Regions from separate parts of the Homo sapiens genome. Here region 1 is linked to region 2. Evidence: fine-mapped expression QTL. Tissue or cell type: testis. Region 2 holds a variant in brackets; the other region holds the start of a gene. All regions are shown on one strand. Distances are between the middles of the regions.

Region 1 (5,166 bases), 26 kb after region 2:
GTCCCAGAGAAATGAAGACTTATGTTCACACCAAAAACTATACACAAATGTTCATCACAGCTTTATTTATAATAGCCCCAAACTGGAAGCAGCACAGATGTTCTTCAAAGGTAAATGTTAAACAAACCATGATATATCCAGATCACAGACCATGAAGCAGTAAAAGGAACAAACTATTGATACACCTGACAACTTGAATGAATCTCTAAGGAAACACATTGAGTGAAAAAAGCGAATCCCCAAAAGTTTACATACTGTATGATTCCACTTGCATAATGTTTTTGAAATAACAAAATGTTAGAAACGCAGAGGAATAGATTAGTAGTTGCCAGGACTTAGGCCCTGGGAGGTGAGGAGTGGGGCCAACGGAAGGTGGGTGTGGTTTTAAAAGAAGGAAAAGCCATACAGAATTGTTCTGTATGTAGATATCTAGATTGTAGCGGTGCATGCAGGAAGCAGGACCTACATGCATAATAAAATTATGCAGAACGAAACACACACACACACGCCATACAAATGAATACAAGCAAACCAGGAAATCGGGGTCAGGTTGGAGGATTGTATTAATGTCTATACCCTGGTTGTGATAATTGCACTATAATTTTCCAAGGTGTTACCATTGAGGGAAAATGAGTAAAGGGTAGAGAGGATCTCTGTATATTATTACTTACAAATGCATGTGAATGTTCAATTATCTCAATAAATAGTTCAACTAAAAAAACACCATTCTTTCATTGATTTCTTCACTAGATGCCATTTTGGGGCTGCCTTTCAATGGAATAGAAACGGAATGGTTGCCGTTTGTCAAGGCAGAGCTCTGATCATTTTCATCAGGGTGTGGAGCACACATGGACGGTAGCCTGCCTGTTTAGCAAAGCACAGCCTTGACAGCGTTATTTTCTCACAGCCAACCGTCCATGAAGAATTCCCAAATGGTTCTACCATTTTCTTTTGCTGCTAGATTCTTAAAATAGATACCAGGAAGAACCTACTCTGCTGTCTTGCCCGAAGACTGGCCTAAATCTCTGAATATTTTACCACACCCATACTTTTGCTTGTATTATCTGGTGAAGCAGTCTCATTATCAATACTGAGTTTGTTTTAAAAGTTATATGGAAGTTTGTGTGTATTTTGTGTATTTTCCAGAGCCCCCAGTGAGTGCCTGAGCCCATTAATTTCAGTCAGAATCAGAATGCAATTTTACACTTTTAAAACTATAACAAGTTCAAGGGCATTCCCAATACTTTTGTGATAATAATAATTTTAAAAATTATTGACTTTGATCCTATAAATATAGGCTCTGAATCTTATAGAAAAAAAATTTCATGCAGCAATAAATACAACTGCAGCATAAGCCTGCTGTGAATAATGCAATTACTATATTTAGTTACACACATTTCTTCCAGTCCAGAACTCCCAACACTCCCTTCTTCTCTCCTGTCTCATGAAGAACAATACAAAATTATATTCCCCTGAGTGATTTCTCTTTCTTCCCATTTTGAGGCAGCAACATGGCTGCCCACAGAGGTTCCCCCAGGGCTTAAGGACATCAATTAATTCAGTAGCTAGGTAGAGAGTTTCCTTTTAGAGGGACTGTTACATAACGTTGAATGAAAGGAGAATGAAAGGAGATGCAGACAGCTCCTGACTGCTGCTCTCAAGCTCAAGTGGGAGAATTAAGACAGCCTCATTCACTGCTCAGCACTTCCTTTGCTCTGATGATCATCAGAAATCATCTCAGTCTTCCTTGCGCTGCTCCTTCTTTTCCTGAAGTTCCGATGCTCCAGCTTCAATCCTCAAACTTGGAAAAAAAAAAAAAAAAGGAAATATCTGTAGTCCTTGCAACTGCTTTTTGAAGTTGTGCTCGGGCCCCTGTTGTTTCTCTACTGAAGCTTGCAGTGTGCTTTCATCGGAGCTGGCCCCTGCCCCAGCCAGCACCAGCCCTCAAAGACTTTTTTATTCTAACATAGCCCGAGTATGTTAGGAAACTAGAGCTGCATAACCACTGCCTCTTAACTCTGCTAGCCCTGGCATCTTATCTGTATGATTTCTGCAGTGATGGGAGGGAAGCTAGTAGCTCTCTAGTTCATTAAACGGAACGTCTGTCTAGGAAGATACCAGGAAGATATTTTATAAATGAATGTCGATATTTTTCCTTCCAATGTAATTAGATATTCTGTTTCAATCTAAGGCTCTTCTTACAGGCAAAAGGAATAATGAAGCTTTCAACCATGATACAACTGAGAAGATTTCAGCATCCACATAGAAAGAAAAGCAGGGCAATGCACCCTCCAAGCTTAGGAAGGAGGCAGCCAGAGAACTCCTGGCTCCTTTGTGGGGTGAGAGAGCTGCCCTAAGGAACTCCAGGCCCAAAAGAGAGAGCAAGTGGGATTAGCTGCTTATTGTGTAAACTTAGAAAGGGAAAACAGAATTAAAGTAGGGGTAAACGGGAAAAATAGATGAGTAAATTTTCCTATTGCTTTAGAAAAAAAAAATCTAAATTCATATGTAATTTTGTATCTACTTGTTTCCCATCTCTACAGGCTTCACTGAGAAGATGAACCTGCCGATGAGGTGTGCAGAGAACTTTGGCTGCACAAGTTAAGAGGAAGAGGCTGAGTCTCAGCTCAGAGAGTGCTGGTAATGCCAAGCACAGCAGAGCTGCCAGAGGGATCTACTTGGAATCTGGGGAGGCCCTGGGGAGACTAACTGGTACAATTTAAAGAGATGCAAAGCAAATGATATGCGGGGCAATCATGTGAAAAGCCTGCTGCCTTACAGGATGGACTCCAGCTGCTCAGTGGGACGGGCTGTTGGGGGCTGGGTTTTGGTAGGGCAAGAGGGCCCCGGATGGAGTGATGGACACTCTAACTCACTACTCCGCCGTCCAATACAGTCCAGATTGTTCAACAACTCTGAGAATAAATGGTCTTTTTTAAAAAATTGGTGTCAAACCTACTGTACTGGGTTGATGTGAAATTGAAATTGAAATAAGTTGTATATAAAATGTCTGGCACATAGTAGTGATCAATAAATATTAATCCCTTCCCCAGACCAATGCTGTATTTCCATTTCTGGGGCACATGCCACATTGTCTAAATCAATGTTTTATTCACTCATACATCAAAGATAATGGAAACACTTATATTTTAGAAAGAACTTACTGTACATTTTATATTCTTTTTGGTAAATTGAATAAACACTCTTCAGAGATATATAAACCTAGATTTCCTGATAGACTTTGCATTAGAACATTGGTGGAAGAGAATGCACCAGAAAATCTCCTCTTTAGGTGCCCACTTCTGAGCTTTAGTCCTCCAACCCCAGAGGCCTAGTTACTCAGCCCAGAGTTCAGTGGGGCCGTGGGAGAAGTGGATGAGCTAGTTCCCTAAAGCACAGGCATGGGGGAGGCATGTCTCTGTCATACTCAATCATCCTAGCACGGGTGTGAGGGACATGTGAAAACGGGAATATAGATGACGCGAAGGTGCAACTGGGCTCCGTTTGGAGTCTTACCCAGTTCATAACTCAATTATCTCTAAGGAATATGCAGAAAAATGTGTTTATTTATTTATTTTATTTTTATTTATTTATTTTTTGAGACAGAGTCTTGCTCTGTCACCCAGGCTGAAGAGCAGTGGCACGACATCAGCTCACTGCAACCTCCACCTCTTGGGTTCAAGCAATTCTCCTGCCTCAGCCTCCAGAGTAGCTAGGATTACAGGCGCCCGCAACAACACCTGGCTAATTTTTTTGTATTTTTAGTAGAGACGGGGTTTCATTATGTTGGCCAGGCTGGTCTTAAACTCCTGACCTCAAGTGATCTGCCTGCCTTGGCCTCCCAAAGTACTGGGATTACAGGCGTGAGCCACTGTGCCTGACCAGAAAAAAAAAAAAGTGTTTAGAAGAATAGATATTTGAAAAAACAAAACTAGTAATTTGCGAAACATCTAAATAATAATAATAATGTCAACCCTGTTTTGACTGCTCGTTACATGCCAGACACTGTTCTAAGCATTTTATATGTATTCACTCACACAATCAGCCCAACAATCCAATGAAACAGGTACTATCATCATCCCCATTATAGGGATTAGCAAAGTAAGGCACATGGGACATTCAGTGAATTGTTCAAGATCTGAAGCCAAGTGGCACAGCAAGTATTTGAATCCATGGTACACCAGGTTCTGAGCCTGGGCTCCTGACTGTTAATTTGTTTCATTGATTAACATCCTAGGGATTGTTTGTACAATTTTTTGCCCGAAGAAAAGCCCTTCACTAATTCCCAAGTTTAAGTTCATAGATTTGTTTAATCATTACTGGTGCAGGGTATTGGGTAACTGGAGTAGTTTCAGCAAAAAGCAATTATGACTTCATTTGAAATCCAAGTAGATTAGGCATGGTTGATTTTATTTTCAATGGAAAAACCTTTCAGTTGGGTTTATTGGTCATTGTTTTTCAGTGATTTGTTTGCCATTGACATTAGTCGTGTTGTGTAACAAAGAAGTGTCCATTAACTTTGATTAATTGTCTCTTACGCCGAAAGTCCTAACCACGCAGTGCTCCACTGATACCACTTGAAGGGCAGAAGCGGAGGGGTGGGCTTTGGGATTGAGAAGAGCCTTTGGATGCTCACTTAACTGTAATTTCAGAAGCACAGACAAGCAACAAGATGACAACTATAATAAAAACAAAATAATACAAATAATATCAGTGGCAGCCTTTACCCAGCAGTGGCTGTGCCCAGCCTGTTGCGTGTCCTGAGATGTGGGAACTCATCTAAGCCTCACCCTAGGAGGAAGGTCCAATTCATCCTCCCATCTTACAGAACTCTAAAAGTTATCCCAACTTTACTCAAAGCAAAATCCTCATGGCCATATGGCTTTGATACAGTCCTGGACACCACCATTTCTGGTGGCAAATTCACAGCAAAGTAATGTCCCTGAACTTCAGCTTCCCATACCCTCCTCAATTCTGCAAATGGCAATACCCAGAGCTGCTGATGTGTTTCATGAAAGAACTCTAGGGAAGTAGGGAAGTGCTCAAAGGATTTCTGCCACAAGATGGTCAATAAATGGAAGGCATTATTATTGCTATCTGGAATACCCTAAAAAATGATCAAGCTGAGTCCGGGCGCGGTGGCTCATGCCTGTAATCCCAGCACTT
Region 2 (5,166 bases):
AGTAAGTTCATGGGTACATGAAGCATCTAGCAGTAGCTCATGACCTGACAAAAGTAGGTTTTGTTGATCTGACTTCCTCTTCTGCCCCATCCTTATCAGAGAAATATAGAGAATGAGCCAGGCAGGCTCATGCACTTGAAGCTATCTTTCTGATGTATCCAGCCACATCGTCTGCAGGGCAAGGAGGACACAGGCCAGTTCTTACTGGCCTTGCAGGGTCATTGCCCTGAATATTTCAAACGAACTCTATTATGGAACCCTGTCTTGAAAGTTGGTAGAACCTGCATCCCAAGACCAGCAAGATGGAAAGCTATTATCTCAGGATTGAAAAAAAAAAGAAAGAAAGAAAGGAAAGAAAGAAAAAAGAGTGCTTGTGATAAGAATCAGAGTCTTTTAGGCTGGGATCCAAAGACGGCTTTTGGAACATTGCATTTACAAAATACGTTTATTCCTTCTTAATTCTAAATTATCTCGACCCAAATCCTTTTAACACATAAAGTTATTTTAAAAGTACACTGTCATTTCCTGCTGAAGGCTAATGGAGAAATGCTACTATAATAAAACTAGAAATAAAAAATATCAAGCTACATCTATGAGACGAGGAATGTAGTATACATTTTGTAATATTTCCTGAAAGAGACTCAGAATTGGATGTGTGTGCCTGTTTACATCAGCCACATAAATCAATGTAGTCTCAGACACTAAAAGAATTCACTCTAGAACAAACAACAGAGGAAATGTGTTTAGAAAATCTCAGGCATCAGAGAAGTAAAATCTTTCATTAATCATCCTCCCATTTCACTGTCCATTTGGTGAGGTTTCCATAGGAATCGGTATTTCAGGACGTTAGATATTTAGTGGTGCTGCGGATGGGTGAGCTGGCTTGAGGCAGGTATCCTAGGAACTGTAGGAGGCCAGAGGACATCGTTTTCTGCTTGGTGAAGATATCACTGAATTTTATTCACATGATTCATATAATATATCTACTGAAATCAGCGCGATTGCTGAAATTTGTACAAGTGCGATCAAAGTACACACATTTAGGGGTTACTCAGTATCTAAAAGGACAGTATGAGATTGAGCACTTAAGCTAAGCTATCCTTAATGTTCATGTTTTCAAAAAAGTTGGGAAAATTATTCTATAGTATTAAATGAATAGTTAAAATATTGATCACTCATTATTTCAAATGTTTAAGGTAAGCACACAAGGAAACCTTATCAGTGATAAACTGTGGGCCGGGTGCGGTGGCTCACGCCTGTAATCCCAGCACTTTGGGAGGCCGAGGCGGGCGGATCACGAGGTCAGGAGATCGAGACCATCCTGGCTAACACGGTGAAACCCCACCTCTACTAAAAATACAAAAAAAATTAGCTGGGCGTGGTGGTGGGCACCTGTAGTCCCAGCTACTGGGGAGGCTGAGGCCGGAGAATGGTGTGAACCCGGGAGGCGGAGCTTGCAGTGAGTCCAGATTGCGCCACTGCACTCCAGCCTGGGTGACAGCGAGACTCCGTCTCAAAAAAAAAAAAAAAAAAAAAAGTGATAAACTGTGGATGGTGGAAGAATTGGTGACTTATGCATACAATTTTTTTTTTTTACTTTCCACATTTTCTGAAATGACTGTGTTCCATTTATAATATATTTTTAAAATCTTCAAAAAAAATAAAGAAAGCATTCTGATGTTAAGTCAAGGACTAGAAACAATAACAAGAATATATTCATTATTTATGCCAATATAAACACATCATTTAAACATATCAGGGCATTGCTTCAAGTGCTTATTTTGAATTAATGAGAAATAAGTCATTTTTGACATGGGTCACCTGGTAAAACACCTGGTAACAGCCTTCGGGAAACCAAGTTCCAGTTCAGTAAGTAACTAACGAAATATACATTGCCTTGTAAGCACATCTTTGAGATGCCATTGGGGAAATCTCTAGGTTTGAAAGATAAGGGATTACCTGCTTAACACGCTTAATCCATGCCCAGCTGTCAAGCAGAAATTAAATGTGTTAACTCTCTCAGTGAGGAAGTAATGAAAGAGTCAGGAATATCGCTCTTTTATTTCTCAAAAACCATTAAAAAAAAATCTAGAGAAGCCCTCTGTGTTCTGCAACATAACAAGATGATTCATTGGACATTCCCCTGTGGCCAACACCTCTGTATGGTATAGGGTAAAAAGAGCTAAAGAAAAATAAGATACAAATAACTTCTTCATTTTGAGTTCTGCTGGAAGCAGCAGCTGAACCTTTTCAGCTTTGTTAAGTGCCAGATGATGATCTTGCTGCCTTTACAGTGTTGTCTCTTTCTCTGTCGTCTTTAAGTATGAAGGAAGAAATATTTTACTCATGATCATCCCCAATTTCTCCCCAGCCAATTCAGCTTTGGCTGCAGTAAGAACATGTTTGCACTGTATCAGCATCCTGAATCATTATAAATACATCATTCATTTTAGAGTTAGATAACTAATGAAATTGCTTAATCTCTTTCATTCCTTGTTGACTTGAGAGTCAAATGTGTTCATCATGCAATATACTATAAATTAGTAAAGAGAGGGAATCATAGGATTATTCTTCCTTAATCCCTTACTTCGAAGATAATAGATGAAGATTTAAATTCTGTATTTTTGATTAAGTCAACTCTATGAATTTTCTGGTTTGGATATAGGAAGCAAGGGTGATGTCCATGTAAATATTGCTACATAAGCTTATATCTCAAATAAATTTAATATCTCTACATATTTTCATAATGTTTTAATAATATGCTATGATTATTTTGATTTGACATTGTTACTTATTTAAGAATTGGTTGCAAATAACAAAAACAGAAGATTCTCACCTCTCAGATGGCCAAAGCACAAGCAGATTTGATACAGCTGTATTTTTTAGATGGAGTCTCGCTCTGTCGCCCAAGCTGGAGTGCAGTGGCGCGATCTCAGCTCACTGCAACCTCCACCTCCTGGGTTCAAGCGATTCTCCTGCCTCAGCCCCCTGAGTAGCTGGGACTACAGGCGTACACCACCAAGTCTGGCTAATTTTTTGTATTTTTAG[A/T]AGAGATGGGGTTTCACCATGTTAGTCAGGATGGTCTCGATCGCCCTCCTCGGTCTCCCAAAGTGCTGGGATTACAGGCATGAGTCACCACGCCTGGCCTGATACAGCTGTATCTTTAAAGCTCCAACATGTGAGGAGGTTCAGCCTTGAGGGGCCTATCAGGAACCAAGAACCACAACATTCTTTTCCTTTCTGAGGTCGTAGCCGCTGTGAGTCTTAGCTTCTCTCTGCATCTGTGAGGTCATCTCCCTTTCTGTAGAGCATATGATCTTTACTGATGCACCTGCATCTGGCTCAGACTTAGTCACCCAGCCCTGAAATTATATCATATCACAGGTCATTCTCTGAGTCTCTTAATGTGAGGCCTTGAGAGAAAAATCAACATGCCTTCTGTTGGATGAAGACCAATCAGCAAGATGGTGGTGATTGTGGTACAGGTGGTGGTGGTGATGGTGGTGGTGGTGGTGGTAATGATGGTAGTGATAGTGGAGGTAGTGGTGATGGTGGTGGTGGTGGTGATGAAGTGGTGTTGGTGATGGTGGAGGTAGTGGTGGTGCTGATGGTGGTGGTGGTGATGGTGGAGGTGGTGGTGGTGGAGGTGGTGGTGGTGGTGGTGGAAGTAGTGGTGGTGATGGTGGAGGTGGTGGTGGTGGAAGTAGTGGTGGTGATGGTGGAGGTGGTAGGGGTGGTGGAGGTAGTGGTGGTGACGATGGAGGTCATGGTGGTGATGGTGGTGGTGGTGGTGGTGGTGGTGATGGTGGTGGTGGTGATGGTGGAGGTGGTGGTGGTGATGGTGGAGGTGGTGGTGGTGGTGGTGGTGGAGGTAGTGGTGGTGATGGTGGCAGTGGTGGTGATTGTGATGGTGGAGGTAGTGATGGTGATGGTGGAGGTGGTGGTGGTGATGAAGGTGGTGGTAGTGGTGGTGATGATGGTGGTGGTGATGAAGATCATGTTGGCAGTGTTGGTGGAGGTAGTGGTGATGGTGGAGGCAGTGGTGGTGATGGTAGAGGTAGTGTTGGTAATGAAGGTGGTGGTGGTGGTGATGGTGGTAGTGGTGGTGGTGATGATGGAGGTGGTGGTGGTGACAGTGGTGGTGGTGTTGGTTATGGTGGAGGTGGTAGTGGTGATGATGGAGGTAGTGGTGGTGATGGTGGTGCTGATGGTGATGGTGGAGGTGGTGGTGATGAAGGTGGTGGTAGGGTGGTGATGATGGTGGTGGTGGTGATGAAGATGGTGTTGGTGGAGGTAGTGGTGATGGTGGAGGTAGTGGTGGTAATTAAGGTGGTGGAGGTAGTGGTGACGGTGGAGGTAGTGGTGGTAATCAAGGTGGTGGTGGTGGTGGTGGTGGAGGTGGTGGTGGTAATGAAGTTGGTGCTTGTGGTGGTGGTATTGGTGATGGTGGTGGTGACGGTGGAGGTTGTGGTGGTGATGATGCTGGTGGTGGTGTTGGTGGAGGTAGTGGTGACGGTGGAGGTAGTGGTGGTAATGAAGGTGGTGGTGGTGGTGGTGGTGGAGGTGGTGGTGGTAATGAAGTTGGTGCTTGTGGTGGTGGTATTGGTGATGGTGGTGGTGACGGTGGAGGTTGTGGTGGTGATGGTGGTGGTAGTGGTGGTAATGAAGGTGCTGGTGGTGATGATGGAGGTGGTGGTGATAATGGTGATGGTGGTAGTGATGGTGGTGATGGTGGAGGTCGTTGGTTGTGGTATTGGTGGAGGTAGTGGTGGTAACAAAGGTGGTGGTGGTGGTGACGGTGGAGGTGGTGGTGGTGATGATGCTGGTGGTGGTGTTGGTGGAGGTAGTGGTGACGGTGGAGGTAGTGGTGGTAGTGAAGGTGGTGGTGGTGACGGTGGAGGTGATGGTGGTGATGATGGTGGTGGTGTTGGTGGAGGTAGTGGTGATGGTGGAGGCAGTGGTGGTAATGAAGGTGATGGTGGAGGTGGTGGTGATAATGATGGTGGTGATAGCGGTAGTGATGAAGTTGGTGATGGTGGTGATGATGGAGACAGTGGTGGTGGAAGTAGCGAAGGGCCCTATGGTAGAGAGAATTTTGGATTCAGGGTGGTGATGGGAGGGTTTATTAAGAAAACATCAGGAAACAGAGAGGGTATTTCTGGTATC

Evidence for each region. PIP is the estimated chance that this variant, and not a neighbour inherited with it, causes the effect.
Region 1: LINC02123 starts here. The variant in region 2 is the best candidate, but not a certain one, in a credible set for the expression of LINC02123 in testis (GTEx, PIP 0.59).

The regions. Positions count from the first base shown.
Region 1 is chr5:7,345,146-7,350,311 of GRCh38, reverse strand. LINC02123 (long intergenic non-protein coding RNA 2123) reads left to right here and starts at 2,335. Exons shown (of 2, transcript NR_134277.1): 1 at 2,335-2,436; 2 at 2,544-3,326.
Region 2 is chr5:7,371,186-7,376,351 of GRCh38, reverse strand. It overlaps LINC02142 (long intergenic non-protein coding RNA 2142), which reads right to left and starts at 3,186. Exons shown (of 4, transcript NR_183263.1): 1 at 2,837-3,186. It overlaps LOC105374645 (a long non-coding RNA gene), which reads left to right and starts at 3,258. Exons shown (of 7, transcript NR_188260.1): 1 at 3,258-3,479. The variant A/T (reference allele first, on the strand shown) is at 3,049.